Regions from separate parts of the Homo sapiens genome. Here region 2 is reported to be linked to region 1. The links are microRNA targets in miRTarBase. Many come from high-throughput screens and were not tested one by one. Region 1 holds a microRNA gene; the other region holds the end of a gene's coding sequence.

Region 1 (3,390 bases):
CTCTCAAGGGTCCGAAGCCGCCCAGCCTCTGCCTCCCTCACCTCATCTTGCAGCGAGGGGGCCGCTCCTGCTAGGGGTGCTGAGGATGAGAGATGAGGTCAGGACCCCTCCTTTACTGCCTGGCTCCTCACATACACACCCCAGAGGCTTGGGAGAAGGGAGGGAGTCAGAGGCTCTCCCCAGTACACTGCTGGAAAGCATAGGAAGCCCCCACCCCAGCCCTTCCAGTGGGGTCCCTCACCCTCCCCAGGGGATCCTGGAGGTGGCTCCAAGCTCCGCTGAAGCTCCAGCTCCAGCTCCACATTCTCCTCAGCCAGCTGGTCCACCTGATGCCGCAGAGAGTCCAGCTCCTGGGGGTGAGGGAAGGGTCAGACAAGCCCTCCACACCATGGCCAGGCCGAGTGTGTAGGTCGGAGGGTCACTAGAGGTCACCAAGAGCAGAGGTTGCAAGAATCACTAGGGACCACTAGGGAATCAATGGGGTCATGGGGTGACGGGGCAACCCAAGTGGGATCACTCTGGCTACCTTACCGCATGGGCCTCGCCCAGCCGGGTTCGCAGCAGCAGGTTCTCGCGCTGGGTCTCGTGCAGCCGGGCGCAGCGCTCTCGGGCAGCCTCCAGCTGCTCTTCCAGCAGCGCCTTGGACGCCTCCAGCACCCCCGAGAGCACCCGCTCCTCCTGGTGGGAGAGCAGGGAGAACCGGTAGCCACGCAGCCCCCATGCACTCCAGCGCCTGAGGGTCCCAAACTCCTTCCCCTCAGCCTGTCACAGACCCTGCCTCCCTCCCCCACCCTGCACCCCATCAGTCTCTAGGCCCCGCCACTCCCTTCCATCTTCTTCCCACCAAGATCTCTTCAGGTACTTTCTCCCTCGCCCCTGGCCCCGCCCTTTGTGCAGGCCCCGCCCTTCTGTCCATGCCCCGCCCCTCCCCCCCGGGAACAGCCCTCCTTCCAAGGCTGCATCACTTACACAGCCCCCCCACTCCCCTACACCTGCCCCATCCTCTGGAGGCCCTTTCCCAGACGCCACCTCCCTGAATTTGTCCTCACCCATTTCTCCACCTGTGACTGTCCCCTCCAGAGAACCTGCCTCTCTGCCCTCGGGACCCAATCTCGCCCCTCCTCCTGGCCCGCCCCCTCGCGCACGCCCCGCCCCGCGGCTCCGTCTCCGCCTCACCTCCAGCTGACTCTTGTAGGCCTCAGCCGCCTGCAGCCGCTCGCGGCAGCGCCTCAGCTCCTCCTGCAGGCGGGGCAGGCGGCCGGCCCGCTCCCGCAGCGCCTCTGCCTCCTCGCGGTACAGCTCGGCCCGCTTGGCCTGTCCCGACAGCGCCTGGGCCTGGGCCAGACGGTGTGGAGCTGGGAACAGCCAGCCGCGGGCCAGAGGGATTAGGGACGGGAAGGAGCCGGGTTGGGAGGGAGGCAATGGGACCGGGTGCGGGGAGGTTAGGGAATGCCGCGGTGGCGGGGAGCATGTGAGCGCACCTCCTGGCGGAGCCTTCTTATTTCGGCCTCCAAACCCTGCACCTCGGCCTGGGAGTCTAGCAGCAGCTCGGCCTTCTCCTCCCTGGAGGGAAGGGGAGTCTAGGGAGGGTCTGGGGGCCCACAACCCCCAGCCCTTCCCAGGCCTGACCCCTCCCGTAGCCACCAGGGCTAGGGTCCCATCCAGGCTTAATCTGCCCCTCTCCACTCAGTCCCCTTCCCAGGCTGCGCACACTCACAGCTCCTGCCGCAGACGCCGCAGCTGAGCCTTGGCGTTGGCCAGCTGCAGGGCCAGATGGTGCGAGGGGCCCTCGGCGGGAGCCCTAGAGGGAGCCTCAGGCCTCAAGCAGAGGGGTTCTCGCTCCAGCAGCAGTTCAGCCAGCCGCTGTAGGTCAGGGGTCAAGGGTCAGGACTAACTTATCCAATGCCTCTGCACATCGACCCCCAACCACAACACCAGACATGGGGTTGTGGTCTGGGGTCTTGGGCCATCTGGTTGTGACATCACTGATGGCCCAAGACCTCAGACCACAACCCCATGCCTGGGCCCCAAACTTCCATCTCCCTTGCACAACCGGCTCCCTGATGGTCCTCCAGTTCCCCAACCTGAGTCCACGATGCCCCTGCTGCCCCTACCTGGGCCCCCAGGTCACGCTCCCGTGCCAGCTTCGACAGTGTCCCCATCAGGCTCCGGGACAGCATCTCCAGCTCGGCAGGTGCCAGCTCCCCAGGATCTGGCCCAGACAGTGCCAGCACCACGCCGGCCCCCGGCTGGGTCACCTGGGGCGCAGGAAGAGCAGTTCAGTGGAAGCCGCGGTGTGGCAAGGGCGTCCCAGGTGCCATACCAGTCTGGGCTGCCGAACCGTCTCAGTACCTCCTGGATGGCAGCGGCCAGCTCGCTCTGGACCTCGAGACTGAGGCCCTGGATGTGGCGGATGAAGAGTTCCCGGTGCTCACACTGAGGGGAGACAGGAAGGGGAGCTGGTGCAGGATCTCCCTCCTCTACCGCCAAAGCTCGACCCTAACCTTTCCTTCCCACCGCCGGCTCACCTGTACTGACGCTCCCAACAGTAGCCGAAGAACGCCTTCCAGCTGCTCCACCGCTTCTTCTGCAAGGCACATGCCACAAGGGGTTAACTGGGGCGGGGAAGGTAGAGTAGTGCGGGGGCAGAGGCAGGAGGGTGTGGGTGGGGAGAGCACCTGAGAGAGGGTCAAATCCCAATGTCTGGAGGTCTGGGGGTGGCGACAGGATCAGCAGCTGCAGCTCCTCCTGGAGGCAGAGAGGCAGACTATATGAGGCGCCTTCCCGAAGGGGCTCCTCTTCCCCTCCTGTCTCCGCCTTTCCCTCGAGACCCCTTACCTGGTAGAAGTCCCTCAGTCGGCCCCACAGGTGGTTCAGGTTCCACACTCGCCAGGCAGCAGGTCCGTCAAGGCCTCTGAGCATCCGAGGTCCCCCTCGGGAGCTGGGGGCACTATGAGCCGGAGGTGGGCTCGAGGACCCGCCTCCCGTCAACAGGCCTCGCCCACCGTCCCTCAGGCCCCGCCCACTGAGCATCAGGCTCCGCCCACCCGCTTCCCCTCCTCTCAGATCCTTCCCCGCCACCGCCCCGGCCCGATGCCCCTTACATGATGCCCAGCACCCGGAGGAGCAGGGCCCCATCGCTGAGGCGCAGGAATCTCTTCTCCAACCAAAGGGGCGGCTCTTCCTCCTCTTCCTCTTCTTCCCCCTCCGAGTCCTCCGCCTCCCCGACCAGCCCGGCCAGTCCCAGCGCCTGTGAGGAGCCCAGAGGGGTCAGCCGACCAGCAGAGTGAACCCTGAGCCCCTCCGACCTGCCCCAGTGAGCCCAAGCACCCCTTCTCACCCGTCCTCTGAGTGCCTCTGTCCCCTCTTCCCTCACCACAGCCCCCCACA
Region 2 (3,390 bases), not on the chromosome of region 1:
TTGGTGGGTCATGAGCAACAAGACTCGGGATGAACTGGAAAGAAGTTTTGATTGTTGTGGCTTATTCAACCTCACAACCCTGTATCAACAAGATTATGATTTCTGCACTGCAGTGAGTGTGTTGGGGGTGGTGCAGCAGCCAGGGGAGGTAGGAAACTGGGTAAGGACAATGCCCAAGTTGGCAAATTTAGTTTGAATGTCATTGTTTCTCTCTCTACAAGCCCTCTTGTATTGGGGCTGTGTTGGTGGGAGGTGGGGGTGGATAGAGGCTGGGGAATTAGCCAAGTAGGATTTTAGTTTGTAGGACACTGGTCAGATAACAGTAAAGTTTCTAGGGACATTCGGCATAGGTATTAGTCACTAGCAACTTTACATTCACAACTTTGCATTCTTCACGTTTTATCCTCAGATCTGCAAGAGCCAGAGCCCCACATGCCAGATGTGTGGAGAAAAGTTTCTTAAGCATTCAGACGAAGCCCTGAAAATCCTAGGGGGTGTTGGACTCTTCTTTAGCTTTACAGAGGTAACATTCTCCAGTTCCCTCACACACATCCTTTTTGAGACTGAGAATTAATTGATACTTATCTCTCTCCCTTTGTTCCTACAGATCCTTGGTGTTTGGCTAGCAATGAGATTTCGGAATCAGAAGGATCCTAGAGCCAACCCCAGTGCCTTTCTATGAGACTTTGGATCCTTCTGACTTTTCTTCTGCTCTCTCTAAGCTTTCTCTTCCTCCCTTAGGGAATATCTAGGGTCTGTAACCGTTTTGGTTTGAGAAAAAGGAAAGGCCCCTTGTCACATCCTCTAAAATTGATGGAATAGCAAGACTTTATGCCTTGACATATTTTAGTGGGAGCCAGACTATAAGGAATAAAAGGAAAAACTTTCTTCCTCTCTCTCCAAGAGGATATGGGAAGCTTCTGTGAGTGCATAGGATGGGGGCTGGAGTCATTCTTAGCTGTTTCCCTTCCTCTGTCCATATACTGGATCACCTCAACATACCCTGGTGTGGCTCTAAGGGTAAATCAGGGATAGGGCCAAGGAGAAAACAACCAAGAACTCTTTCCTGTAATAAGCAGGATCCAGTTTGAGAAAGTTTAGCGAATATAAAAGTAAAAGCCATTTAAAAATCTATATTCTTTTTTTTTTTTTGACACAGAGTCTTGCTCTGTTGCCCAGGCTGGAGTGCAATGGCATGATCTCGGCTCACCGCAACCTCTGCCTCCCGGGTTCAAGCGATCCTCCTGCCTCAGTCTCCCAAGTAGCTGGGATTACAGGTGTGCACCACCACGCCTGACTAATTTTGTATTTTTAGTAGAGACAGGGTTTCACCATGTTAGTCAGGCTGGTCTCGAACTCCTGACCTCAGGTGATCCACCCGCGTTGGCCTCCCAACGTGCTGGGATTATAGGCGTGAGCCACCACGCCCCGCCTAAAATCCATATTCAAAGAAGCAATTTCAGTTCCTTTCTAAGCTTTGTCAGTCAAGGGGCTCCACTGACTTCCTAGGCCCTGTAATTTAACCAGTCTTTAAGGTTTTGCAGGAAAGTCCCTTCTTCCAAGTGGTTTTTCCAAATCGCACAATGGCAAAGCCAAACAGAGGAAGAAACATTAAAAAAAAAAAAAAGACCATTATTTCTTTGTTTTGTTTTTCCTGTATAAAAAAGGACCCCAAATATAAAGGTAGGGAAAGGGACAAGAGGGAACATACCCCTTAGTGTAGAGAAATGGGAAGGAGAAGGAGAAGCCTCAAAAGGAGAGGTGGGAGGGGAATGTCATTAAGGCAGCAAAGTAATCTCTGTAGAAAGATGGAGGAGGACCCTCCATAGCCTCAGAGATAAAGGCAAAGATTGCCCTCTCAGTGTCCAGAAGGGAAATGGCAGCTTTTCTTCCTTCCATGGCAGCCACTCCATTGCTCACTCCGGATTACCTTCATCCTTATGTAGATAAGAGTGCTGCAGAGCTCGAAAGGCAGAGATTCGCTTGTGTGGGTTAAAAGTCAGCATTTCCTGAGGGGAGAGGCAAAGGTCAGAAAACCATGAAGAAAACAGACTTCTGCCCACCCACAACAATACCTGGGATGAGCTTTCTTCTTTTTTCTTTTTTTTTTTTTTTGAGACGGAGTCTCGCTCTATCACCCAGGCTGGAGTGCAATGGTATGATCTCAGCTCACTGCAACCTCCGCCTCCTGAGTTGAAGTGATTCTCCTATCTCAGCCTCCCAAGTAGCTGAGATTACAGGCGTGTGCCACCACCCCCGGCTTATTTTTGTACTTTTAGTAGAGACGAGGTTTCACCATGTTGGCCAGGCTGGTCTCGAACTCCTGACCTCAGGTGATACGCCCACCTTGGCCTCCCAAAGTGCTGGGATTACAGGCGTGAGCCACCGTGCCCAGCCAGGATGGGTTCTCTTCTATATCCTTCTCTGTGGGTGGCTATTTGCAGCTGTAATAAAAACTACAGCCCATCTACCAACCAAGTTTCATTAACCACAGTGGCCAGGGCCCTGCATACTGCTCTATTTCTTTCCCCAGTCTCTATTTCTTTCCCTGTGCCCACAGCCATCTCCAGTACCAGCAGCAGCTGTGCTCCCGACTCCTCCATCTCAGGTACCACCGACTGCACTGGGCGGGGCCCTCTGGGGGGAAAGGCTCCACGGGGCAGGGATACATCTCGAGGCCAGTCATCCTCTGGAGGCAGCCCAATCAGGCTGTGGGGGACAGGAGAACTCTGGTCAGGAGGGTCCTCCAGTTCCCATCCCCATGGGCAGAGCCAGTTGCCATCCTGGGTTCAGCAGAAAGAGGACTCAGAATAGAAAATCTTTTTCTCCCATGTTGGTCACTTACTCAAAGATTTTGCCCAACTGGTCGGCTTCAGAGTTTCCACAGAAGAGAGGCCTAAGGTGAGAAGGGATATAAGGTAGCAGTCATTTTCAAAGATATCTTAGTTGAATGGTTACTGCTTAGTGGCTCAAAATAGGAAGTATAGGGAATAAAGGCCAACAATTCCAGCACTTTGGGATGCTGAGGTGAGAGGACTGCTTGAGCCCAGGAGTTCTAGATCAGCCTGGGCAAGCAAGACCTTGTCTCTTTTTTTAAAAAAAAAGAAATGCCAGGTGCAGCGGCTCACGCCTGTAATCCTAGCACTTTGGGAGTCTGATGTGGGTGGATCATGAGGTCAAGAGATCGAGACCATCCTGGCCAACATGGTGAAACCCTGTCATTACTAAAAGTACAAAAATTAGCTGAGCATGGTGGCGTGCACCTGTGGTCCCAGCTACTTGGGAGGCTGAGTCAAGAGAATTGCTTGAATCTGGGAGGTGGAGGTTGCAGTGAGCAGAGATCGCACTACTGCACTCCAGCCTGGCGACAGAGCAAGACTCCATCTAAAA

What was found. The annotated mature microRNA hsa-miR-7155-3p reads UGGCCCAAGACCUCAGACC and lies in region 1 at 1,990-2,008, shown strand. An mRNA with a match to its seed (bases 2 to 7 or 8) in the 3' UTR can be bound and repressed. Matches are read on the target gene's strand: a 7mer-m8 pairs with bases 2 to 8, a 7mer-A1 pairs with bases 2 to 7 and ends in A, and an 8mer does both.
Region 2: the mRNA of TSPAN31 is a reported target of hsa-miR-7155-3p. The part of its 3' UTR that is shown has no 7-base or 8-base seed match.

What each region holds. Positions count from the first base shown.
Region 1 is chr11:64,340,467-64,343,856 of GRCh38, reverse strand. It overlaps MIR7155 (microRNA 7155), which reads left to right and starts at 1,953; the gene lies at 1,953-2,008. It overlaps CCDC88B (coiled-coil domain containing 88B), which reads right to left. Exons shown (of 27, transcript NM_032251.6): 2 at 3,105-3,250; 3 at 2,839-2,950; 4 at 2,679-2,748; 5 at 2,529-2,587; 6 at 2,353-2,436; 7 at 2,115-2,258; 8 at 1,718-1,863; 9 at 1,482-1,563; 10 at 1,177-1,335; 11 at 532-678; 12 at 242-350; 13 at 1-79. LOC102723878 (a long non-coding RNA gene) reads left to right here and starts at 3,065. Exons shown (of 4, transcript NR_188518.1): 1 at 3,065-3,316. RefSeq lists silencers at 806-1,100, 2,965-3,014, 3,035-3,114.
Region 2 is chr12:57,746,609-57,749,998 of GRCh38, forward strand. TSPAN31 (tetraspanin 31) reads left to right here. Exons shown (of 6, transcript NM_005981.5): 4 at 1-112; 5 at 410-523; 6 at 608-3,390. The coding sequence ends at 682. CDK4 (cyclin dependent kinase 4) reads right to left here. Exons shown (of 8, transcript NM_000075.4): 6 at 2,846-2,896; 7 at 2,574-2,709; 8 at 1,119-2,009. The coding sequence ends at 1,917. It overlaps MIR6759 (microRNA 6759), which reads right to left and starts at 2,074; the gene lies at 2,010-2,074.